Regions from separate parts of the Homo sapiens genome. Here regions 1, 3, 4 and 5 are each linked to region 2. Evidence: fine-mapped expression QTL. A gene starts in region 2. Each other region holds a variant in brackets. All regions are shown on one strand. Distances are between the middles of the regions.

The links. PIP is the estimated chance that this variant, and not a neighbour inherited with it, causes the effect.
Region 1: its variant is fine-mapped to the expression of LINC00842 in sun-exposed skin (GTEx, PIP 0.93).
Region 3: its variant is fine-mapped to the expression of LINC00842 in unexposed skin (GTEx, PIP 0.97).
Region 4: its variant is fine-mapped to the expression of LINC00842 in sun-exposed skin (GTEx, PIP above 0.99).
Region 5: its variant is fine-mapped to the expression of LINC00842 in lung (GTEx, PIP 0.98).

What each region holds. Positions count from the first base shown.
Region 1 is chr10:46,473,143-46,478,245 of GRCh38, reverse strand. No RefSeq gene overlaps it. Among named protein-coding and RNA genes, the nearest start is that of NPY4R, 9.7 kb to the right of the region's middle. The variant G/A (reference allele first, on the strand shown) is at 2,986.
Region 2 is chr10:46,395,973-46,401,075 of GRCh38, reverse strand. LINC00842 (long intergenic non-protein coding RNA 842) reads right to left here and starts at 2,714. Exons shown (of 4, transcript NR_033957.2): 1 at 2,283-2,714. RefSeq lists an enhancer at 3,839-4,454.
Region 3 is chr10:46,365,476-46,370,578 of GRCh38, reverse strand. It overlaps the pseudogene FAM25BP. Among named protein-coding and RNA genes, the nearest start is that of ANXA8L1, 7.7 kb to the left of the region's middle. The variant C/T (reference allele first, on the strand shown) is at 2,417.
Region 4 is chr10:46,423,596-46,428,698 of GRCh38, reverse strand. The region is part of intron 1 of LINC00842 (long intergenic non-protein coding RNA 842); the gene reads right to left. Among named protein-coding and RNA genes, the nearest start is that of LINC00842, 28 kb to the right of the region's middle. RefSeq lists enhancers at 3,294-3,794, 3,795-4,295. The variant G/C (reference allele first, on the strand shown) is at 2,501.
Region 5 is chr10:46,793,827-46,798,929 of GRCh38, reverse strand. It overlaps the pseudogene BMS1P1. Among named protein-coding and RNA genes, the nearest start is that of FAM245B, 56 kb to the right of the region's middle. The variant G/A (reference allele first, on the strand shown) is at 2,494.

The sequences.
Region 1 (5,103 bases), 77 kb before region 2:
TTGTTGGTCGTGAAGGATCTTTTCGAGCAGTCCCATCAGCTCCCAAATTTTCCCCTTTGGGGAGAAAAAGTTCCCCACGTTCTATGGCCTGGTACACGCCTAATCCTATCACCCACTGGTGTTAGCAAAGAGTGCAAGGCAGATCACTCCAAAGAGAATAGTGGTTAACCCCATGGTGCCAAATCCACGTTTAACAAAGAGGGACTTTACTGAGGGGGAAGGCCTCCAACCCAATCCCATCCTTTACCAGGTAAAATGAACCCACTACTCACCCAAAGTCAGCCCATTGGTGCTGCGGTCTATTTCCTTTGGATCGGGATCGTAACTAAGCTAAAAGGCTAGCAGATTTAATTTTTTAAGTCAATGAGTCGCATAAGCTTTCGATTTGCCTTTTGTAAAGTCTTTAAATAAAAATACTGAAATCTTTTTAGAAGCTTCTGCATATCAATAGACATCCCTAGATGAGACTAACTTGGGAGCCCTCATTTTCAAATGCACTTCAGTGCAGTTTTGTTCATTTGGAACATTCCACTCTAAGTTATCTTTAGTAAGATTTCACCATTTCTATAAGACTGCTGCTTCCGGGGCCTACCACTTATGCAGGTATTAGCCAGAAGGAACTCAGTTCTTCAGAAATTAAGGATCCAGGCCGGGCGCGGTGGCTCATGCTTGTAATCCCAGCACTTTGGGAGGCGAGTTGGGCGGATCACGAGGTCAGGAGATCGAGACCATCCTGGCTAACATGGTGAAACCCCGTCTCTACTAAAAATACAAAAAAAATTAGCCGGGCGTGGTGGCGGGTGCTTGTAGTCCCAGCTACTTGGGAGGCTGAGGCAGGAGAATGGCGTGAACCCGGGAGGCGGAGCTTGCAGTGAGCGGAGATCACGCCACTGCACTTCAGCCTGGGCGACAGAGCGAGACTCCGTCTCAAATTAAAGAAAAAAAAGAAATTAAGGATTCAATTTTTACCTCAGATTTTGGCTTTGCTCTCAGGTTCCTTTGATCAACCTAGCCAATGATTTTTCTCCTACCAAAGTGCATAAGAAAAATGAAACAAGGCCGGGTGCAGTGGCTCACACTTGTTATCCCAGCTCTTTGGGAGGCCGAGGCGGGTGGATCACCTGAGGTCAGGAGTTCGAGACCAGCCTGGCCAACATGGTGAAACCCCATCTCTACTAAAAATACAAAAAATTAGCAGGGCGTGGTGGTAGACGCCTGTAATCCCAGCTCCTCAGGAGGCTGAGGCAGGAGAATCACTTGAATCTGGGAGGCAGAGAGTGCAGTGAGCTGAGATTGTGCCACTGCACTCCAGCCTGGGCAACAAGGTGAGACTGTCTCAAAAAAAAAAAAAAAAAAAAAAAAAGAAACAAAGGGGTAAAACACAAAAATCCCTGTGAATTTTCAATAGCCTAATTTTACACCCCTGCAATATTACCATTTACTACATTTCTTTCTGACCCAGTCAGATGTAAGAGGCCTCTAACTGTATCCAAGCCAGTTAATTACCAGATCAAATCCATTCCTTGAACCAGCCCAGTTTCTGTCATGACTTCCAAACCCAGTTTGGAACAGAAATTTGCTCAAAGAAACTCGGAGAGCTCAAAACACAAATCAGTGGAGCTCTGACATTGGAGAGAAAACTTACCATGACTTCCAACTGCTCTGAGAGATCAACGAACACAAATAGGTCCTGCAGGTACCTGGCTTCGGTCACTCAGCACTCCTGGGAGTCGTTAGAAGCTCTACTTCAGATCTGCTCTGACACCATCTGATAAAAGAAAAACTTCAGCTGAATTAAATTTAAAGGAGCTTAAGTGAGCAGGCAATGAATGATTCGCGAATTGGGCAGCCTTCTGAGCCAGAGTAGGCTCAGAGACTCCAGCACAGCCACGTGATGGAGGAAGATTTATGGACAGAGAAAGGAAAGTGAGGTACAGAAAACGGAGGTGAGGTACAGAAATAGCTGATTGGTTACAGCTTGGTGTTCACCTTATTTGAACAGGGTTCAAACAGTTGGCTACATTTGATTGGCCAAAACTCATTGATTAGCACAAGTGTAGACTACAGTCTGTTTACACCTCCACTTGTTATAGTTCATGATGTACAGAAAAACCTTTAGGCTGAACTTAAAATATGTAAGGAGGCAGATTTAGGCTAAATTGATTTATTTTTTATTATATTTTTAAGACGGAGTCTCACTCTGTCACTCAGGCTGGAGTGCAGTGGCGTGATCTCGGCTCATCACAACCTCCATCTCCTGGGTTTAAGCGATTCTCCTGCCTCAGCCTCCCAAGTAGGTGGGACTACAGGTGTGTGCCACCATTCCTGGCTATTTTTTGTATTTTTAGTAGAGATGGGGTTTCACCATGTTGGCCAAGCTGGTTTCAAACTCCTGGCCTCAGGTAATCCACCTGCCTTAGCCTCCCAAAGTGCTGGGATTAGAGGTGTGAGCCACCGCACCCGGCCGGCTAAACTTGATTTAACAGTACCTTTTGGGAGATAATTTTTTTGTATAATGGAATAGTTACTCTAATTATAAGCTGCTATTATACCTCATTTGGATCTGGGAATTTTCTCATGTGATGTATGTACACACACACACACACACACACACACACGACTAATATTGCAATATTCTTTTTTGTCTATGTTTGTGTGTCCTTGTAGAACTTTCTATAGCCCAGTCTGGAAGTGTAGGGAAACTGTATCTGTTTCAGAGTGAAACTGCTCTAGGGGATGGGAAATTTTGAGTTTATTATTTCCATGAGAAAATGGAATGGGGCTTCTTTTGGGGGAAGATTTAAAATTATCTGTGGAAAAAAGTGAGTTGGACTTGGTAATGTAAGATGAGAAATTTTTCATTATTATATTCAATGAGATAGATACAAATACTGGTTTCCTTAATATTTCTGAAATTGTATCATTGACTATGATAGATGAGACTACTGTTCAAACATATTCACTCTTCCACCTCTCCATTTCACT[G/A]GAAGAGTGTAGTTACTGGTTCTATTAATGTTGGGCATGGCTCTGACTTGCTTTGGCCTCAGGGTAGGTGGGGGACAGTTCTTTGCCTCTCGACTGTGCTCAGCCATGTAGCTTGCTTTGGTCAATGGATGTTAGCAGATGTGACTCACGGAGGAATGGAAATTACCTTGCATAGCTGGGCTTGTCCTCTTGAACTGCTGCCATCTCCATGCATAACACTTCTTTGAACTCCTTCAGCCTGAGCCCCAGATGGAATATCAGTGGAGAAGTTTAAATCTCAGTGAGGAGCCAAGTCCAGTTGGACTCATAGCTTGAAACAGAGCTGCCCCATTGAGCTCGCCTAGGTCAGCTAGCCCCAGCTGACCTGCAGTCATGTCAATTGTATGTCACTAAGATTTTGTGGCTCTTTTTTACTCAGCTTTAGCTAACTAATATATCACCATATCAGGGAATTTTGGTAGGACAACATAGCTAAGCACAATTTGAGATGGGGAATAGAATAGGGTAAATTCTCTGTTCAAAGCATATGGTAATCTGGTGCCTATTTTACTTATTATCCCATTTGTGCCCTTTTTTATAACATGTCTTTGGAAGCGAAACTGTACATCCAGTGTCTCTGTAACACTGAGTCTATTGTCCATGTAACATTCAGTCTACTGAACTGCTTTAAAATATTAGTTGAATGACAGTAGACTGAATGAATCTCTGTAGTTCCAGAAGGCAGGGAGAAGGATTGGGAGAGTCGACACAAAGTGTGCAGCCAGGGCTGCGTTGGTATTTTTCCTCTGATGTGCTCCACAGAAGGGCAGCTGACCCACTGTGGGTTGATAATTTCACTGGTTCACAGAAGACAGGGAATATAGGACTTTAGGGAAATAATGTGCCTTTGTCTTTGTCTTTCTCTTATTCTCTATCAAGGGGGAAAATGCTGCTCTGGGCTGGTTGGATTCAAGCTCATGGATTGGACCATGGGATAAAGTTTTAGTGGCAGATGGCTACTTCCTTGAAATAGAGTGGAGAAAAAGGGTGGCAGCATTGGTGAGAAGGGACAGGCAGGAGGCAGTAGGGAAGTCCAGCTTTACTCTGGAGAGAAGAAGAGGTGGGGGTGGGGAGGGCAGGGCCAGCTGTTTGGGGTGGGAGGCAGGGAAGGTGTTGGCTGCCCAGTTGACATCTCTTATCTCTTTCCTGGGGCCAGAGTAGGTTATTTTACAGCCCAGCCTCTTTATGGCCTCAGCAGAGAAGCAAAGGCAAACAAAGAACAGGTGATCCCTCAGGGCCCAAGGAGACGCCTCCTACAGCAGGTGTGCCCACTTCAGCAGCCCTGCTGGCCAGAATCTCTACTTAGAAGGCTTCTGGGAAGGCCAGGCCCTTATCGGCTTCCGACTTTGAAGTCCTAGGAACCCTCCCTCACACCTCCCTTCTATGTGGCTTTGAAAATACTTTGATATTCTATCCCTATCCCTTAATTATTTGAACCCTCACCAGTTTGTAATGAGCCTGAACCCATCTTTGCTCCATTTTACATATGACAAAACTGAGGCTGGAAGCGTTGTTGCCAAGCTTCTTTGCCCTTTGTACCATGGGATTTAATTACATATATTTTATGGATTCTTTCCTTTATAAAGTTGTAATCATTCATTCTTTTTTAATAGAGAGAAATTTAGAAAAGGAAACAAAGCAAAAAATGACCTAAAATCCTATGGGTCAGATAACTCCCGTTGATATTCTTTCCTTCTTTCCCCCAGTTCTATTTCCAGAGGTTACCACTTTCAATTTTTATTTCTGTTTCATTCTATAAAGATGAAGAAAATTTTTGACACCTTTAAAAATATAATTTAAATCATCTTAAACTTATAGAAAAGTTGAAAGTGAGGATAAAGAACATTAATTTTTCTATGCCATTTGAAAGCATGATCCCGGCAATTTGCATGAACACCTTGCTACCGCCTCATCTGCAGGCTCCACTAAAGTTTCATCAGCTGTCCCAAGATACACAGGTTTCATTCTCCTGTCTCTGGTCTCCTTCAATCTGGAATGGTTCTCCCTTCTTTCCTTGACTTCCATGGCCTTATGTTTCCAGATGACAGGCCAGTTATTCTGTAGTATGTCCCTCACCTG
Region 2 (5,103 bases):
CCAGATGAGTGAGGATCAAATTTTGAAGATGTACTGTCTTAGTAAGAGGTTTAGGAAATTGGTATTTTCCTTCTGTACTGATGAGAATGGGGACTTCTTGACAAAATCTATCTTAAGTACAATTCCACATGCCCTTTGATCTAAACACAATATTTTAGGAGTCTATCCTATGATGATACAAAGTAATATAAGAATGTTTATTGCAATAACTTCCAATAACAAGCTACCGAAACCAGCCTAAACAACCAAAAACAGATTAAATGAGTAGAGATTGGTTAAATAAATTATGGTACATTCACAATGAAATCTTACACTGCTGTTAAAAAGTATTAATTTTTCCTAAAGATATATTAAATACATATAATTAAAAATAGAAAGAAGACTAGCATTAGACAAAAGCTAGAGAAGTAGGGAAAGTACATATATTTTTGCGTATTCCTAGAGAATTTCTAGAAGCATATACAGGAAACTTAACAATCGTGAGAGAGTTTGGAGAGGACTTTGGCTGGGGGTTCTGGAGTGGTGCAGAGATTTATTTTCACCACTTACTCTTTTGTACTACTTGATTTTCTAGAAGCATATGCAAGATGAATTTCTAGAAGCATATACAAGAAACTTAATAACTGTGAGAGAGTTTGGAGAGGACTTTGGCTGGGGTCTCTAGAGTGGTGCAGAGATTTATTTTCACCATTTACTCTTTTGTACTACTTGATTTTTATCAAGTGCGTGCATTACTTTTTTGCCTTTTAGGTTTTTATTTTATGTATGTTTAGACTTTTAAATTTTCAAATAATCATAGATTGACAAGAATTTGTGAAGGGGTCCCAATATCCTTCACCCAGTTTCTCCACTGTTTACGTTTTACATTCTACAAAACAATATCAAAACAAAGAAACTGACATTAGCACAATGTGTGTTCTTCTATTACATTGTATCACATGTGTAGATTCCTGTAACCACCAAGACACAAAACTATCCCATCATCCCAAGATCTCTCCTGCTACCTCTTTGTAGTCACACTTCCCCACCACCGCCTCTAACGCCTGCCAACCACTAATCTGTTTTCACTGTTTATAATTTTGCCCCTGGAAGAATGTTATACAAGTGAAATCGTACAGTATGTGACTTTTTGAGATTGGTTTTTTTCACTTAGCCTAATGCTCTTGAGATCCATCCATTTAGTTATTTGCATGAATAATGTTTCTTTTTATTGCTGAATATTGGCATAGATGTGTCACTTAGTTTAAGCATTCACTTAGTGAGGGACATTTTGGTTCTTTTCTAGTTTCTGGCTATGATAGGAAGACACAGGAGAAAATCATCTGGACCTAGGAGTTGAGGATGAGTTCATAGGCATGGCACCCAAGTACGATTCATTAAAGAAAGAATTGATAAATTGGACTTCATCAAAATTAAAAACTTTGCCTCTGCAAAATATTCTGTTAAGATGATGAAAGGACAAGCTATGGAGGGGAGAAAATATTTGCAAACTGCATATCTGACAAAGGACTCACATTTACAATGCATAAAGAGCTCTCAAAACTCAACAGTAAAAAAAAAAATCTGATAAGAAATTGGGCAATAGACATGAAGAGACATTTCATGGCCGAGTCAAATCAGCATGTGGAAATATATTTAACATCATTAGCCTTTGGGGAAATGCAAATTGAGATCATGAGAAATCACTGCACACTTATTTGAGCAGTTGAAATAAAAATATAATGATAAAACCAAATGCTAGCAAGGATGCAGAGAAACCAAATTTCTCATCCCTTGCTTGTGAGAATATAACATGATACACACAGCCACTCCCAAAAATAGATTGACAGTTTCTCAAAAAACATGCACTTACCATATTACTCAACAATCACATTCCTGGGCTTTTATCAGAGAAATTATAATTTAAGTTTGCACAAAAAGCTACACACAAATGCTCATAACTGCTCTATTCGTCATGTTTTTATTGGCAGGTAATTTACATACAAAGAAATTCAAAAATCTTAAATTTCACAATTCAATGTGTTTTGTCAAATGCCTGCACTCCTGTCCCTCCCCCACTGTAAGATTTACAACACTCTAGCACCCCCAAAAAGTTATTTCATGCCCCCTTCAGCTAACCTCTACCATGCCACTCCATCCATAAACCCCAAAGCAACTATTAAAAAAAAAAAAAAAAGGCAAAAACCGCAATTACTTTTGCACCAACCTAATACTAGTCTGATTTTTAAATCACAGATTCATTTTCATATAAATGGAATCATACAATGTTTATTCTTTCATACCTGACTTCTTTCATTCAGGAACACGATTCAGAGCTTCTGCTGTGCAGTAGGGGACATCAATAGTTCATTTTCTTTTTATTGTCTGCTAACATTCCATTGTATGGATTCAACCTAGTCTGTTTATTCATTCTTCTTACTGATGAAGTTTTTTTCTCACGGCTTAAGTCCAAGGTGTGTCTTTTTCGTCCAGCCAGGTGGCCCCGGCAGGTCGCTCCTCAGGGACCCACATGGGTCAGGGCGGTGCAGCAGTGACCCACAGGGGCCAGTGCAGTTGAAGTGGCTTTGAAACCTGATTGGAGAAACAGACTGCTCAGCTGTTAAGAACACACAGCGCTCCAGAAAACTGGTGTTCAACACAACGCGTCACTCCGGCTTCCACTGCTGCTGCGGAGAGTCAGGTTCTCCGGCAAGGCCCCGCGCGCCCGCCCCCGCGCGCCCGCTTCTCTGTCCAGGGAACGCCTTTCTGCGGGCGGAGGCGGCTACGAGGGGGCGCTGCGAAAGCGGATTTCCAGGCACGCCTGGCGCCACTAAGCGGCGCTGAGACGGCGCTGCCTCCTGACTGCCGGTTGGAGGCTACAGGGGCTCTGGGGCAAGGGCCGCTTTTAGGAGTTTGCTGGTCACGAGGGGGGACGCGACCTCGTCCAAGATCTGTCTGCAAGGGACCCTTCCCAGCCGATGTGAACACAGCCCGGGGAAAGGGGTCTTCCGGGGAGCAAAGGCAGCCCGGGAAGAGGAGTAGGGGCTGAAACCAAAGGCAGCCTGGGTACCCAGGTTTTCCCAGGGGACAAGTCCCCCAGTTAGCTGGGCACAGGGAGGCATGGAGAGCGGCAGCAACTGCGTTGGGATGGGGCGGCTGCCCCAGGTTGGGGCGGTGACCCATGTTCCACCAGGCCAGGCGCAGGGCTGAGGTGGCTGACTCCTGTTTCACAAGTGAAGACCTGGTCACCCCAGCAGCAAGGCATTCCGGAGTGGGAGAATTCCTGAGTCCTGGGGAGGAAGCCGTGGTTACAGGGCTGTGGCCCTGAGCAGGAGCTGGCTGGCCCAGCAGGGTGGGCCGAGCACTTCAGTCAAGGCTGAGCGCCAGGCACCAGGGACTCAGGTCTGAGAGACCTGATGTACATCCTGCTCCAGAGCAGATCACAGAGATGCGCCCGCATGAATCCCCAGGCTAAGCCCAGAATTCCGTGGAAGATGCCCATGGGCCAGGAACACGGGTAGTCACCGCGCTAGGGCATCACACAGGGCCCCCCTTGGCCAAATACCACGAGGGAACTTAGACACCTGCATGGGGCCATGGAAGTGCCTGCAACCTCACACTCAGGCCTAGGGCTTACCGAGGTATTGCAGATATTTGTGTTCTCAGAGTAGGAGCTTAGGAATCAGTATCTTCTCTTCGCTACAGGGACAGAGATGCAGTGGCCTAGGACACATCACAAATATTTAAAACGATGTCCTTGGTCAAGGACAGAGGTAGCCAAGGCCAGCCTTCTCCCAGGAAACTAACCCAGGACCCCAAAGCACAGAGCTGTTAGGTGGGAGGGAATTGGTCTGTATGTCTCCCTATAGTGTTGCAACACTTCGGCGCTGGGCTCCCTGTCCCAGACTCACCTTCTATACTCAAGCCAGAGGCCTACGAAAGCCGGGTTAAGATCTTCCCCTGCCTGTCCCTGTAAAGCTTCCCCACTGTCTCTGGAAATCATTTGAGCTTCTTAGCCCCACAGCATGAGCCCGCTCTGACTCAGGCCCTGACAAGCTCTTTCTCTTCTGTCTCTCCCTCCTCTGTTGATATGGACACACCATTCCTTTGGCATGTCTAGTACAGACCAGATCCCCTGCTGTTGTTAGCATTCCTCCCTCTCCCTGGAATGTTCTTCCTTATCTGTCTACCTGATAAGCACTGAGTCATCCTGCAAAACTCTGCACAGCTTTCACCTTCCCTGAGGAGCCTCCCCTGGCCAGCCCCACCCTGTTGCAGGCAGAATGCTTGGCGGTGGGTTGCTGACCACAAATCCATTCCCCCTTTATTCCTTGCCAAGGGAATGCTGATTTTGCTCAGGTTGTCAACCCTCAGGGAGGTGACCCTAAACATGCCAAGTCCAACACACTAGCTCTACCCCCTGAGAGCATGAGAACAACACGGATGGGCATGTGCCCGGATCTGGCTTTGCCCTCATGGACTGCAGGTCAGGGGTGGGAAGCTCTTATAGAGCAGCCCCAGGAGCCCTAGGGGCCATCCTGCTGGCCATGCCATGGCAGTGTCAGAACCCCAAACAGCACCTGGGGTGAAGGAGCTACTGAAAGAGTGGAGAGACTCCACTTTGTCCTGTTAGATCTGTCTCAGAAGTATTTTTATTAGGATTGACTGGGTAAGCTTTCTTCCACAGGGAGCCTAAGGGGGCCCAGAGATTCTTCTCAGAATTGGAGGCCATCAAGGATTGGCTCAGGCTCGCTGGCTACTAGGCTCTCCTGTTCCCAAAGTCCATACTCTTGTTTGTTGTTATTCAAAAATATTTGTTGAAAGCCTGCTATCTACTAGGCCCTGAATGTTTAAAAACAAATAAAGTTCCTGCCTTCAAGGGGCTCACAGCTTTTCTGAGAGGACACGTAAACAGATAAAATGTCATTAGGGTGTAGTTCTGTGTAATAGAGGGTGTTCTTAGGTGCTGACAAGAGCATCTACTCTGTAGTTTAAGCAGAAAACAAATGTATGAAAGGCTATTGGACGGCTCACAGAATTCTGTGCGGCACGAACACTGTGTCTCAAATCATGCTGCAGGACAAACTTGGGGCTCAGTATGCTGGACCATGTTGTGCCTTCTCT
Region 3 (5,103 bases), 30 kb after region 2:
TTTTTAAAGTGTGGGTGGTAGTGTGCTAGAACTGAAGGATTTCAGAGTCAGAAGAAATGGTTCTTATTCTAACTCTACCTTCCACCTCTTGGTTCCCTCATCTTTAGAATGGGAATCTGTTGGGATGATGAGACCCAACACCAGGTCACGGGGGCGGCAAGTCCAGCGGAGTCAAAGGAATGAGAAAGAGACAGTTCGAGAGAGAAAATGGGAGCAGGGCGCTATCGCGAGTGTGGAGGCTGCGAAGGCCCCGAGTTCTGGGAGCCCACGCTATTTATTGGTGATCTAACAAAGAAACAGGTGGTGAGGATGTGGAGGTTGAAAGGCAACAGTGTATCAAATGAATGAGAAACATATGGCTACTTGAGAGAATGGCAGTGCTAGAAGCAAGGAGCCAGCAAGTCTAGCAAGCCCTGCCTCAGCTTTTCTCCCAACGCTGAGCTTTTCTCCCAACAGGAATCATAAAAAACTCAGAGGCTAGTGAAAGGTTAAAGCAGGTGGTCCACACCAGCTGCAGAGTCAAAAACAAAATACGCATCTGCTGCCATTTAGAAAGAGGACACAAACTCAGGCAAGACTTTTTCACACGATGACCCATGAGTGGGGCCTGGCTGGGCCTCCCCACACATACCTGCTGACCTCTGAATACAACATACACTTCGGGACCAGGTGCAGTGGTTCACGCCTGTAATCCCAGCACTTTGGGAGGCCAAGAGGAATGGATCACTTGAGGTCAGGAGTTTGAGACCAGCCTGGCCAAAATGGCGAAACCCCGTCTCTGCTAAAAATACAAAAATTAGTCGGGCGTGGTGGTGGGTGCCTGTAATCCCAGCTACTCAGGAGGCTGAGGCATGAGAATCACTTTGAACCCAGGAGGCAAAGGTTACAGTGAGCCGAGATCGCACCACTACACTCCAGCCTGGGTGCCAGAGCAAGACTCCATTTCAAATACAAATACAAATAAAAATAAACATGCTTTAGGGGACTTGGATGAAATTGAAAATGCCCTTTTTGACTTTGAACAGACTTGGTGACTTGTTAAGAAATCTTTGAAGCTTTAAAGTTATGGTAAAAATAAAAATCCATCTTCCTTTTCCTGCATAGGTTATTCAGAATAGGCTGTTTTGACAAGAAAGGCTCCCCAGATTTCCAGAGGGAAGGGTCCAAGCTGCCAGTGTTCACCCAGCACCAGGACTCATGCCCTGCCCCCAGGAGACCTCCCCAGGTCTGCACCCCTCAACTCCGTGCTGACTTGGTAGAGCAGGAGACCAGGGTTCCTGAGGGGCCAAGGCCTCTCCGCAGGTCCTCGCCTGCCTACGTAGATCCGCCTCCCACAGACTCAGTCTGCCCCAGATCCCCCCAGCCCAGGTAGAAAGGAGCCCCGGGTCCTCACTGGCTCCCTAGGTGGCCTTCTCGGTGCGGTGGGCCAGGCCCTCGGCAGCCAGCTTCCCCAGGCCTCCCAGCATCGTGTGGCAGCAGACAGTGGCAAACTAGGATGCTGAGGACTGGCCCAACATGCTTTTATAGCTGCCTCTGGTGCCTGTCTAGGCTCTGGGGCAATAAGCCCTCACCCCAGCCCAGTAGGAGGCTGGACAGGTGAGTCAGTGAGGGCGGCAGCAGGAAGGGGCTGGGCGGAGCCACCCTGGAACTAGGGTGGCAGCATCCCCTGACAGCATGAGGCTTCTGTAACCCTGTCCTAGGGACCCCGTGAAGGATAGGGGCAGGGAGCAGGGCTGGACAGTAGAGATCTGGACATGCTTCTTCCTTGAGGCAGAGGGCCTGAGTGCCAGCCCCCCTGAGACCAAAGCTTCCCAAGCCTGGGTACTGATATGTACCTGGAGACAAGGCCTAGGATTCCAAGCCTGCTGCTCAAGGTCCCCAGTGTGGCCTAGTAAGAGGTTTGGGGGTTCTATGGGCCTGGAGACCTGGGCAGTCCTTTGGGTCATGAACACAAGTGGAATGAGGGTGACTGCCCTCCCCATTCCTGGAGACCCTGGCTCTGCAGAGCAGTTTGCGGCCTCCATGGGACAGGGTGGGCCGTTCAGGGTGGTGCCTTGCCTGAGTCAGAGGGGGGCACAGCACTGGGCAGAAGCGTAGTCACCTGGTGTCACTCAGCTGATGCTCACTCACCCAAGAGGCTCTGTGAGGTCAGCGGTGCCCTCCTATCCCCTGGCAGTCCTGGAGGAGTAGACAGAGGCCTCCACCACCACTCAGGGAGATGCTTCTGGCCTTAGCTAGAATCCCCTAGAAAGCAGCTTCCCTGGCTCCTGGTGCATCGCATGAGGAGTGGCAGGGCTGCTCCCTAGTTACTCATGATGGACAGACATGCCTCAAGCCACCTGCCACATGCTGCTTCCCTTAGTCACCAGCCCAACCTGAGCCTCCGTTTCCTCATCTGTAAAATGGGCATAGCGTG[C/T]CTTCTTGGCTGTGTCCCTAATCATCCCTGAGACAAAGCATGCAAGCTCCTGGTAAACACCTGTTCCCTCCACTCATCATTGAGGTGCCCTTTGGCAGTGAGCTCTGACCAACCGGTAGGGTGTGCCAAGGAGTGACTGGGACGTGAGGCTGCCTTGGAGCCAGAGGGCTGGGGAATGTGACTTCTGCTGGCCAGGAGCCAAGGAGAGGTCTTCCCATGCTCCTACTTCTGGGGTGCAGGCCTGTGGCAGGGGTCCGAGGCTGTCTCCCCAATGCAGGCTCCTGGAGCTGCTCTCCTGGATGTGTCAGGGCCTGATTAGTTTACTGGACTGTGGGCCCTCCCAGCCTGGGACTCTGGAGCTGAGACCCTCTTGCATTCCTGCATGGTGTTTGCGGGCTCCAGGGCTACGGCCAGTAACCCTAGGGTGGACAGTGGGTATCGTGGGCAGCAGGACCTCTGGGTCTCAAGACTGTGGCCCCACACATGCCATTGCTGTCTCCTTTGGGCAGGGGTGAATCGGGGCTTCAACAATTTAGAGGGGCCTCTTTATGAAAAAGAATACAATAATATGATTCTTGCACATTTTTCATTTATATACGTATGAACTTCTGGACCCAGAAGGGGCTGTGAAAGTCGGGGGCCTGGAGCTCAGGCGGGTCCAGATGACCCTGTCCTCCTTTTGTAACAGCCAGAGTCCAGGATGCTTTGCCCAGGGCATTGGGCTGGCACTGCAGAGGCCTGGGGGATGGGGCGACACCTGGGACATGGCTGGTGGGAATTGTTCTAGGAAACCTCAGGGATTCTCCCTGGACCTGTCAAAGCCCCTTCCCTGTTTCTTCTGAGGCTGTGTCCCCCCCACTCGCACAAGGGTCCTTTCTATGCCTGCTCCCCTGATAAATGTCATCTGCCTGCTCTAGAATGGCTTCCAGACCCCACAGACCCCCTCCTCATGAGCTCCCACCCTAGGGTACTCTCCACCAGTCCGCGCTTTCAGGAGCTCACCAGACCCAGACAGCCTGTTGTCAGAGCTCATCCACACAGCAGGACCCTGGCCCACTGCCCAGCCCAGAGCCAGGCCCACCACGGCCTCTGGGGACAACTGCCCTTCCCCCCACCCCCTCCACATGGTCCCCTGCCCATGAGACCCTGCCCTGCTAATTTAATGCACTGCCTTGGTGTGAGCACTGTGATTCTAATGACAACACACCATGGCCTTCTGGGTGAGGCTGGGTCCAGACACAGATCCCAAATGCCTGCTGGGGAGAAGGCAAGAGGCCCGGGGAGGCTCAGGACAAGACATGGGTCCCAGGCCCTGGTGCCCTCCCTCTTGGCCTTCCAGCTGCTGCTGCTGTGACCAGATTCCCGTTCACCCAGCCCCGTCCATGGGCCCCAGCAAGCCATCTGTGCCCCACAGAGGGCAGACCCCTAAGAGTGGGACCCCTTTCTAGCCAAAGAACATGAGATAGCCCCAAATCCTCCTAAACATGATGGATCCTGGTCTGAGGGGCTGGGCTCAGGTGACTCCTGCAGGGAACTTCACCTGCCTGGATGAGGTCAAGTGTGAATCAGGTGGGGCCTGCCCTCCACCACCCCATCATGGAAGAGGTCCAGCCCACAGTGGGCCCAAGAGGGCCGCCCTTGGACCTAGGGACCCAAGTCAGCATATCCTGAGTCAGAAGGTCAAGTCCAGCCTCCCCTCAGGCAGGGAGAATCTGGCTTTGACAGGAGCAGATAAATTCTCAAGGTGGAATTTGCCCAACAAACTAGTTTGGCAAGGGACTAGCTGGCTGAATCATTGAGTCGAGGACAGCCAATGTTTCCAATAGCAATTTGCCAACTTAGCAATTACCAATTCTGAAAAACAATTTGTTTATTTGAAACACTTAAATACTTAGGCTGTCTCATGTCTGAAGCATGATGATGCCTTGCGTGATTTAAAGGACAGACGTCACGAATGCCAAGAGTTTTGTGGCGGTCCATCCTGCCAGTGTCTTCTCCCACTTTTGTTCTGTGGATTTGAGCTCACAGTTTATGCTGTGCCCACCGCCTGCCCACCCTAACGAGACTCCTGGAGACTTGGCTGGCCAGTCACCAGAGGAAGAGGGGCCCAGCAGCACGCCAGCATTCACCCACCTGTGGGTATCAGTCAGGCTCCTGGTGGAAGCCAGAGGACATATTCGAATGGGTACTTGAGGAAAGGGGCTGTTCACAGAAGTGTGGACCGAGTTAAGGGAACCAGTAAGAGATGAGGAATGTCCTGGACCAGCAAGAGTGGGAGCTGTTATCTCCCTGGGTCTAGAGGGACAGGAAAGGTGTCCACAGATCCCAAAGAGAGCTGTGGCTGTAGAGGAGGATCATCAGGAGCTGCAGCCATCAGTAGAAAGATGTGGCCACTGCCAAACCAGCAAGGAAGAATCTGAGTGAATAACCACCTCTCCTCTCTCTCTCTCTCTCCCACCTCCTATGACGTCCTCCACTGTGTGAATTCCACTAGGGCCAGACAGTGAGGCACCCTGCTGATGCAGTCCAAGGAGCGGGCAGAGAGGAGCCAGTGGGTATGAAGGGGAAACAGATAAACAGAGAATTCCAGCTCACTCTGCGGGATTTCTGGGTCTGATAGAAACACGGCATTATTATTATTATTATTATTATTATTATTATTATTATTATTATTATTATTTTGAGAT
Region 4 (5,103 bases), 28 kb before region 2:
CTTTTTTTACATTTTAAATTAGAAAAAAATTAAAATGAAGACACACACATTAGCCCACACCTACCCAGGGTCAGGATTATCAATATCACTGCGTTCCACCTCCACATCTTGTCCTACCAGATGGTCTTCTGGGGCCGTCATGCACATGGAGCTGTCATCTCCTGTGATGAGAGTGCCTTGTTCTGGAATCCCTCCTGAAGAACCTGCCTGAGGATGTGTTACATTAACTTTTTCTTTTTAATAAGTAGAAGGAGTGCATTGTAAAATAATCATGAAAGTATAGTATAGTAAATACATAAACTGCTAACAGTCATTTGTTATCATTGTCAAGTACTATGCACTGTACATAATTCTATGTGCTAGATTTTATACAACTGGCAGTGCAGGTTTGTTTACACCAGCATCACCACAAACACCTAAATAATACATTGCACTAGGTTGTTGCCAGGCGATAAGATTCTTTCAGCTCCATTATAATTTAATGGGATCACCGTCTGTAGTTGACTGAAGTGTCACACAGCATGTGACTGTATGCATATTCACCTCCTAGAACCCAGACTCATACGAAGAAGTAGGGAATACCCTACTCGCAACCATGTTTTATTTCCTAGTTTCTTCCATTGGCCATTTTCTTTTTCAGGCTGGAGACTTCCCTCCCATCCCCACTGGTGTTCCCAGTCTCTCTGCCTCCTAAGTCTTCCTCTGTTGCTCTCTGGGGACCAGCTTGTGCAGCAGTTTTGTATCACTGTAGGGTAGGGCTTCAATGAGCCCTGTCCTGTGTCCTTCCCTGGCTCACTGCGTCTTGCCTTCCCTTCCTCGCACAGCCCAGGGCCTGACACCACCTCCTGCAGTTGGTCATTCAGGAGCAGGGCACTCAGGGAAGGAGACGGCTCTGCTTCGAGTATAGCCTGGGCACCATCCACAAACGCCTTGGTGTTTGAACTCACCTGTGCATCCCAGATACAGGTATAGTCTCTCCAAAACAAAGGGTGTAGGAAATATTTTTACTTCTCCATCTTTCCAAAGTATCCTTCCCTTAGTATCTTAGCAACCTTCCCCGGAGAGGCTCTTTGGGCTGTGGATGTAGTACCCAGTATCCTGGGCTGCAGATTCATTGATTTTCCATGCTTTGATTGGGTATAATCATGCTCAGAGCTGAGCAAGGTTGGCAGTGAGTGGGCCACTGACATCAGCTTATTCATGATCTCTCTGTGCTCCGATTCTGACATGAACTTCCTTTTCTGTCTCAGAGGAGAGAGATTTCAGGGCTGTGAGCCTGAGGATGGACCAACACGCACGTCAGTTGTGTCTCTGAGGACTAAAGATGGCCAGGACCCAGGACCCCAGCTAGCCTCCGGATGCTGCTGGCTGCTGGGGACCCGTGACCTAAGGCACACCCCTCAACACATTTTCTTTCATTCCTGTCAATCTCCTGTACTGGTGACTGGGCTGGGCCCTCCTGCTGGCCTCCAGGGCCCCACCTGAGCCTCTGGTCCCGGCCTCAGTCAGGCCCAGGCCTAGGGGACCGGCTTCTTGTTTCCTTTCCCGAGAGCTCTCTGGGAGTCCTTACAATAGATTCCAACCCAGGCACTTTTGACAGTGAAAGAAGATTTGTATTATTTTCTTAGGGCTGCCGTAACAAATTGCCACAAACTTCATGGTTTAAAAGAACAGAAATTTATTATCTCACGGTTCTGGAAGTCAGAAGTCCGAAATCACAGTGTCACAGGGCTGTGCTCCCTACTTAGGCTCCAGGCAAGGTTCTTCTTTGCTTTCCTGCTTCCAGTAGCTCCAAGCTTGGCTCGTGGCTCTGATCTCTGCCTCCAGCCTCCCATAGCCTTCTCCTCTGTGTGTGTCTCTCCTTTTCTGTCTCTTACAAGGACTGAGTACTCAAACTTATATCTAACAAAGTACTGGTATCAAAAATATAAAAATTACTCCTGCAATTCAATAATAAGAAGACAAACAACTTAATTAAAAATGGCAAAGTCAGGATGAACTTACCTGAAGATCCTTAATTTAATTACATCTACAAAGCTGTTTTATCCAAATAAGGTTATAGTCACAGGATCCAGGAATTTGGACCCAGACCAACCTTTTGTGGGGGCCACAATTCAACCCACTCCAGGATTTTAATAATAACTATTCCATAACAAAAGACAGAACACCATGACTGTCCCTCCATTCACCTGCATGGCCTCTGAAACCTAAGGACACCTTAGAAGTGGCATCTCTAGCTCGGCGTGGTGGTTCATGCCTGTAATCCCAACACTTTGGGAAGCCGAGGCCGGCAGAGCACTTGAAATCAGGAGTTTGAGACAAGCCTGGGCAACATGGCAAAACCCCGTCTCCACTAAAAATACAAAAATTAGCCAGATGAGGTGGTGCACGCCTGTAATCCCAGCTATGTGGGAGGCTGAGGCAGGAAAATCATTTAAACCTGGGAGGTGGAGGTTGCAGTCAGCCGAGATCGAGCCACTGCACTCCAGCCTGGAAGATA[G/C]AGTGAGGTTCTGTCTCAAAAAAAAAAAGTGTCATCTCCACCACTGGCTCCCTGGGCCACAGACAGGCAGGGAGGAAAAGGACTCAGATCCCTCGTGTGCCTTCCACCGACGGCTTCGCCTCCTCCTCTAACAGGCCTGTGGTCTGATGTTGAGTCCATGTGGCCCCCAGTCTATGCCGGAGGTACTCCCCGGCTAACCCTAGAAGCCAGTTGTATTAGTCCTTTTTCATGCTGCTATGAAGAAACACCCAAGACTGGGTAATTTCTAAAGAAAAGAGGTTTAATAGACTCACAGTTCTTCACAGGGCAGCAGGAGAGAGAATGAGTGTTAGCAGGAGAAATGCTGGGCACTTATAAAGCCATCAGATCTCACGAGACTCACTCACTATCATGAGAACAGCATGGGGGAAACCGCCCCCATTATCCAATTACCTTCATCTATCTAGTCCTAACTTTAACACGTAGGGATTATGGGGATCGTAATTCAAGATGAGGTTTTGGGTGGGGACAAAGCCAAATCATATCAACGATGTTATCCTGTCAGAACTCAAGAGAAGGGTGAGGGCTGGGGGAGGGCCGGGGGATGAGCCCATCTGAAGTGGCCAGTGGAAGCAGTTGGCCTTCTGGAGAGGGAGGCAGGAAAGGCTGGGAGGTAGGTGGCCTTGGAGGCCCAGAGGGTAGGGGGAGAACGTGGGGGTGGAGTGACAGCTGGACATCCCGAGGTAGGGACTGGAAAAGGAGGCCTAGGGAGTTCCAGATGTACCCACCTTTCTCTTTGTAACTTAATGCTGGTTGCATGACCTGTAGGTAACGTTGCAGGGGACTTGGGGTACAGTATGAGCTCTGTGGTTCCCTGCTTTGAGAAAAGGAATCCTCTTTACAAACTTTCTATGTGATTGTGGTGGGGGTAATAATAAAGAGAGCCCCCCACTGCCCACCACAAGGGCAGTCAGAGGACCCACATTGGCCAGAGTGTGTCACACATTGGACGTGCTTATTAGGTTGGGATCAGCACGTGGACAGCAGGGCCAACTAGGGTCCATTGTTAGGAAACTGAGTGCTGGGAGAGCAGTTGTCTCTCCTTCGGCATGTGCTCTAAGGAGTCTGAGCTTGGACCTGCTGAGCACCATAGCTGTCTCCTGGGGAGACTGTGTCTGAAGCTGGAGCCCAACAGAGCCCTGCAGAGGCCAGAGACGGGGAGGGAAAGTTCAGGACCTTGCTTGGACTCCTGGATCCAACCTCACTTCAAAGTCATGGTCACGGATTTCCCAGTTAGAGAGCTCACCTTGAGAGGTGGGGTCTCTGTCCCATCCCCTGGAATCTAGGTGAGCTCTATGACTTCTCTGACCCATAGAGTGAGGCACATGGTGCTGTGCCCGCTTCTAAGCTCAGGGCTAAGAGGCTGTCAGCTTCCACTTCTTGCCTTTCTGATCCAGATGCCATGCTGTGAGAAGGCCCAAGCCACATGGAGGAGCTGTGCCTAGGCCTGCAGACCACAGCCCTCACTCGGTTCCCAGCTGCCAGCTATGTGAGGAAGCCACTTGGGATGTCCAGCCCTGTCGGGCCTTTGGATGACTCAGACGCCATCTGACTAACCCAGGGAGAGACCCCACACAACACCTGCCTGGCTTAGCCAAGCCAACTCCTTCAACTGTGAAAGATGGTGACAAATTATTGTTTTAAGCCACTAGGTTTTGAGGTTATTATGCATTATTTGAAAATAATTAAAATTATTTCAAAAACTGTTTATTGTGACTGATATGGATGCCTAAGGTCCTTGCATAAATGTGTCCTCACTTGATTTAGATGCCAAAATAGGAATCTGCACCTTGAATCTCATCATGAGCTCCATGAAGCTTTGGGTAGCCTCAAGAATTCTAGAGTGCAGGGGCTTAAATTCAAATAACTCTGGCAGAACACTGATGGCCTCCCTCCTCTGGCTGTATCATGCACAGCCTGCTTCAGCTAAGGGGACAGAAGGAGGGAGCCAGCATTTCTCTGAGAACCAATTATAAACACCTTGGGGGAACTCTCATGATCAGTAAGATGCTCTCAGAGCATCGCTTTATGCATATGCTAAGAAGCTGGGGCAAGAGTAGCTTTTTTTTTAATAGTACATTTCATGTAAATTTTTACTGAAGTGAACAGACATATACAAAAATACACAAATTATAATTATATGGTTCGATTAATCTTTGCCAAGGGAACCATGTCACCAGCACTCAGATTCAATAATTGAACATTGTAAGCACCCAAGAAACTGACTTGCACCCTGTGTTGATCATGCCCCCCCAACAGTGATAGTCACCTCATTCTCCAGAGGCCTTAGGCATTGCCTCAGGATCATGGTGGAAGCTTCTCTGGGTGGGGCTGCTTGGGGACCAGCCATCCTGCAGTGGGCCCATGATAAGCACCTGTGGCGCCACACCCCTGGCTAGCAGGCCTGCTGGGAACACCTGTAGGAAGACCTTGGCAGGATCATTGGCCCTTGAGTCAGCTGCTTGCTCAACTTCATGATCAGAGATAAAGGTGAATGCAAGTACTGTGGCCATGCCATGCTTAGGACTCGAGAATGGTGCAGCCTCTCTGTAGGCCAGGGAAGG
Region 5 (5,103 bases), 400 kb before region 2:
TACATAAAGACTGTATAGAAAAAAAATCCTCAGAATATAGAAATAAAATTACGTATTTTACCTGTAGCTATATTAGAAGAGAGTATTCTTGTAGACAAGGATGTCTAGAAGGATACGCAAAAATGAAAACAGCTAATAACACTCATTATGTCAGGCACTGTGGTAGGTAGTTTATGCACATTGTAACAAATTATATACTACACTATCTCAAAATTTTCAGATAAATTTTACTGGAAGTCATAAATCAATACAACAAAATCAGTGTTTTGCAAACATCCACTAAGCATAAAGGTATACAAATTCCCAACCCAGACTGAAAAATAATTCACATAAGCCACACATTAGTGGAAACCTACCCATGGGAGATAATACAACATAATCTAAATAAAACTTTCAGAGACAAGGCATGTGGCTTCTGGACAGCCACAAACTCCCTGACTCTGCTCTAGTGTTTCGGCCATCAAAAGAAAGCCAAGTGGCCTCAGGTCTCTGAAAAACCAAAAAAGCAACCTATGGAAGATGGCGTGGTATTTGAGGAATATTTGAAGTCTGTTGAAAAATGCATCCTGTATTTTTTTCAAGATAAGACTCCCTTGTAATGTCAGGTAAGTGAAGAGCCCTCAGAGACACATGCACACACAAAGAAAAACAAAACGACATAGAATGAATCCCACCAAAATGTGTTATGATGGCAGAATTATGGGTGATACGATCTTCTGTAATATATCTTTTTATTAAAAATAGAAAAAAAGCAGACTTACCCTTGATTATCTATAGCCTCTGACCCAAGTGGTTTGGAATTGGAAAGCAGCATCACTCGACTTGAAGCCATCTTGGCATCAATGGTGGAGTAGGTGGAGATGAGACTCTGGACCAGCTCATGGGTGAGCCCCACCTTGTCCTATCAAGGCCACCAAGAAAGGGCACGTGAGGAAAGCACAAAGATCCTGGAGAGACACTGGTTTCACTCAGTTTCTCAAAATTATCTTAGACACATTTCCTGAGAACCTTTCTTAATGCCACAAACACCAGAGAAGAAAATCCTTATAACAAAGCTTGAAATGGATCCCCATCTCCATTAAACTTGTCCAAAGCTCAGTGAGTATATAACCTGATAACCTAAACACCTAGCTAGAAAAACCTCAGTTCCAGTGCTACAACAGTGCTAGCTTTTCTAACATTTTTAAGTAACCCTGCTTTTAACCCAATAAAATTCAACTACAGAACTAAGAAATAAATATTGGAAATCCACTTTAAAATAATGAGGAGACCACTGTGATTGAGAAAAAGAAAAAGACAAACGAGAGCTGGAAAGCACACTGATTTTGTAGAAACGGAAATAAGCCGTGCAGGTGCCACACTGGCAGCAGTGCCCGCGCTGGGGCCACGGATCAAGGAGGCATGGAGGACAGGACTCTTCTGCTTGGTACAATGAAAAAATGGTATTCTTTTTATTCTACATATTGACAATATGCATTTGGGCCTTTATTATAAGTACAAGAGAAAAATCTTCAATAAATAAAAGCTGAGTACATTACTTTTTTTGATTAAGAAATAGATTAGGAAAGAATAATGAGAGTTCAGAGCAAAGACTCCTGCCTCACTGATGCCTGAAAACCGTGGCTGCCACCAAGGTCAACACAGACAGCGTCTTTGTCATACAGCACACCCTCAACTCCAGAAACAGGCGCATAAACCAGCTGCTCCTTCTTATTTAAACAGCACTTCTTTTGTTATTCAGGAAGAACACAAGGGTCTGGGAGGAAACTGATGTCACTCATGGCAAAATGTTCTACCCCTGGAAGACAGGACCCAAAAAGCCAGCTTCAACTGACAAGAAGTCAGTAAGTATCTACTGTTGACTGGGGGGTTAAAAACGATCCACAGTCCAAGGGCTTAACCCATGACCCTAAAGAAGGGCATTGTGCCACACTGGAACAGTGGCCCTCTAGCTACAAGAGGTCAGAGAAGAGGGATTCGGTAACACCTTTGCAGGCCTACACATAGCTGGCTTACTTTTAAAACCTCCAGCAAGGCCATCTTCCCTTGTTTGGTCATTTTTCACTTTTCCTGAGAAATGAAGCCATCCCAAGAATCCTATGTGCAATTCTCGTATGTTCTACAGCAAGAGAATACCTGGCATGTGAATTTGGCTTTTATTTTTCAAGTGTGCTCCTCTTAAATAACCATAAAGTGACACCTGCAGGTCACATTTGATGTTTGTTTGGATATCCTCCGGGTTTGTCAAATCTTCCATCCTAGAAAAATAAACTCAATCATACAGCAGAAATGAATGCCAAAGTTCCTATACCTCCTTTCATGTGTCAATGACTCATCACACTCTTGTCCATTAAGCACATCACTTAGGAACTAGAAAATGCAGAAATAAGGAAGCACCGTTCACCATCCAGAAGAGGAAAAGGGGCAGGCACACAACTGTGTCTCTAGGCTGAAAGTGACATTCATTCCATAAGACACCAGATGGGAGATGGC[G/A]TCCACCTGGGGTCAGGGAAGAGTGAAGAACACATTCAGAAAATCCATTTCTCGAAGAGGGTGAGCCTGTGCTCTGGGATTTGTACTGTGGCTTGGATTCTGGCAGGTGGAAAAAGGGTATTCCAGGCTGAGAAAATCACAGCACAAAGAAGAGCACAAAGGAAGGAAACTGAAGGCATGCACGAAGGACTCCAGCACCCGGGCATGAAGGCAGCATCACTGAAAACTGAGGCTGAACGTAGGATGGGGCCACATCCTGTAGTCTTAAATGCTTCCAAGTCCTCCCATTTTCCTAAACATCTCATAATTAATTTACTCCCAAAGGCACAGCATCTTTGAGCAATGATATAAGTAGACATTTTCCATCAACTACACTTCTACCCCCACTATTCAAATAGGCACAAAATAAATCCTATCACTGTTCTTTTTCTAGCCTTTTTAGCTTTGAAATATATGGCCCAGGAAGAAAAAGTTTACAATCACCTTTTAACTGTCTGCCAGGATATAAGGGTGAAAAGTTTGCCATGAGAGGCCTAAACTTCATAACTGTAATAAAATGGCCCAGATTGTGGATTTCTTGGTTTTGATATTCTCCATGCACCATTCCAGAAAGGTAGAACAGTTTGGCAACCTAAACATTAAAGGAAAATTAAAAATTAAATTTCAATTAAATTCTCGTCAATACTGCAACAAAATAAAAGCTCTAAACAAGAAGCAATCCTAAGAAGGGAGACTTCCAGCAAAGCCACTGTCCTGAGGCTTCCAGAGCCTTGCTGGATTCTTTCAGGACTTATTAGAACCACACAGAGGCAGACTGCTCTGCAACCAAGCCGGGGCATCCATCTAAGTATGGTGAGGAGAGGGAGGTGAGGCCTCTGAGCACAGAAACGGTTCTGTGGCCGATGGACCACAGCAGTATGGAAAGGAAGGGGCAGTGCCTGGTCCTGTAACTGGGAGAAACTTCTGATGTACTCTATTAAGTCCCGACTCCAAAACACCCAGACATTGCCTGGTGCAGCAGGTACGGAGACAAATGAGATACACCAAGAGGCCCAGAATAACCACTCTCTTGAGGGAAACCTTCCAGAGACTGGGAACACATACACAAAGGGAATTCAGGAGGCAATTCCTAGAGAGACGTTTAGTAATGTCTCTTCAGTCTTTTTGTTTGTTTGTTTGTTTGAGATGGAGTCTCACTCTGTCACCCAGGCTGGAGTGCAGTGGTGCACTCTCAGCTCACTCCACCCTCTGCCTCCCAGCTTTGAGCAATTCTCACGTCTCAGCCTCCCTAATAGCTGGGATTACAGATGCATGCCACCACACCCGACTAATTTTTGCCTTTTGAGTAGAGACAGGGTTTGGCCATATTGCCCTGAGCTCAAAACTCCTGGCCTCAAGTGATCCACCTGACTCTGCCTCCCAAAGTGCTGGGATTACAGGCGTGAGCCACTGTGCCTGGCCTCTTTAGTCTGTTTTTAAAAGATTATACTGTTAGTTTCTAACAATTATTTCTCTTCCTACCTGGTAAACTTCTGTCCAGAACCTGTGTTTTAATCACTTCTTTGTCTTCTTCAGTTGCTTGTTATGCTTGAAGGAGTCGAGGTGGGTGAGAACTCCCAGAATTTTAGGAAAGCCATGTGCTTGACAGATGTTTAGAAACTCAAACATTTCCATTTCAAACCCAAAGCTGGCATCTATAAGCATCAGTACCTACAAGCACAACACATTATTTCTCGAAGAAACTACCAAAACAGACCACCTACACTAGGGGTTGGCAACTGGCCCACGGGCCAAATCCAGCCCATCACCTGTGTTTGTAACTAAAGTTTTATTGGAACATAGCCACATTAATTCATTTACATATTGTCTATGGCCGCCTGTGCACTACAACTGCAGAGCTAAGTAGCTGCAGAAGATATGATCCACAAAGCTGAAAATATTCACTATCTGGCCCTCGACAGAAAAGTCCCACTCCAGACTAAATCAAATGACTACACAGGCATCACCCAGACAGAGAAACCACCACCCTCTGACTTGCTCTAAAAGGCAACCATAAGACAAGGCCACTAGGATATAAACATCCATTTTAAGAATTCTAATGCATGAGAAGTAACTCAGAAAAGGCTGGGTCTAACCTGGCCCTTACCTAAGAAATCCTAATTTAAAGAAATGAAGTTTTCTGTAATGTATTTTTAAGCCAAATAACAGGTCTCTGACATCCAAAGAATGGGAAGAAAGTGATAATCAATGAAATATATTAAATACGTACAGAAAACCAACCCCTTCTTTCAATCTCCTCACAGAAAAAAAAAAAAAAAATCTGTTTTTTTGCTGGGAAGTATACAATGGAAACCTCTAACTTGTATGTTAATTTGTATAACTCAATTGCTCAGAAATATTTGAAATAGCTACCAGTTTAGAATTAAGTAAAAAAACAGAAAGATTATGATGAATGGTAGTCTATAAGAAAATATAAGCAGATAAGACCAATTTTTTTTTTTTTTTTTTTTTTGAGACAGAGTCTCGCTCTGTTGCCCAGGCTGGAGTGCAGTGGCTTGATCTCGGCTCAGCGCAAGCTCCGCCCCCCGGATTCATGCCATTCTTCTGCCT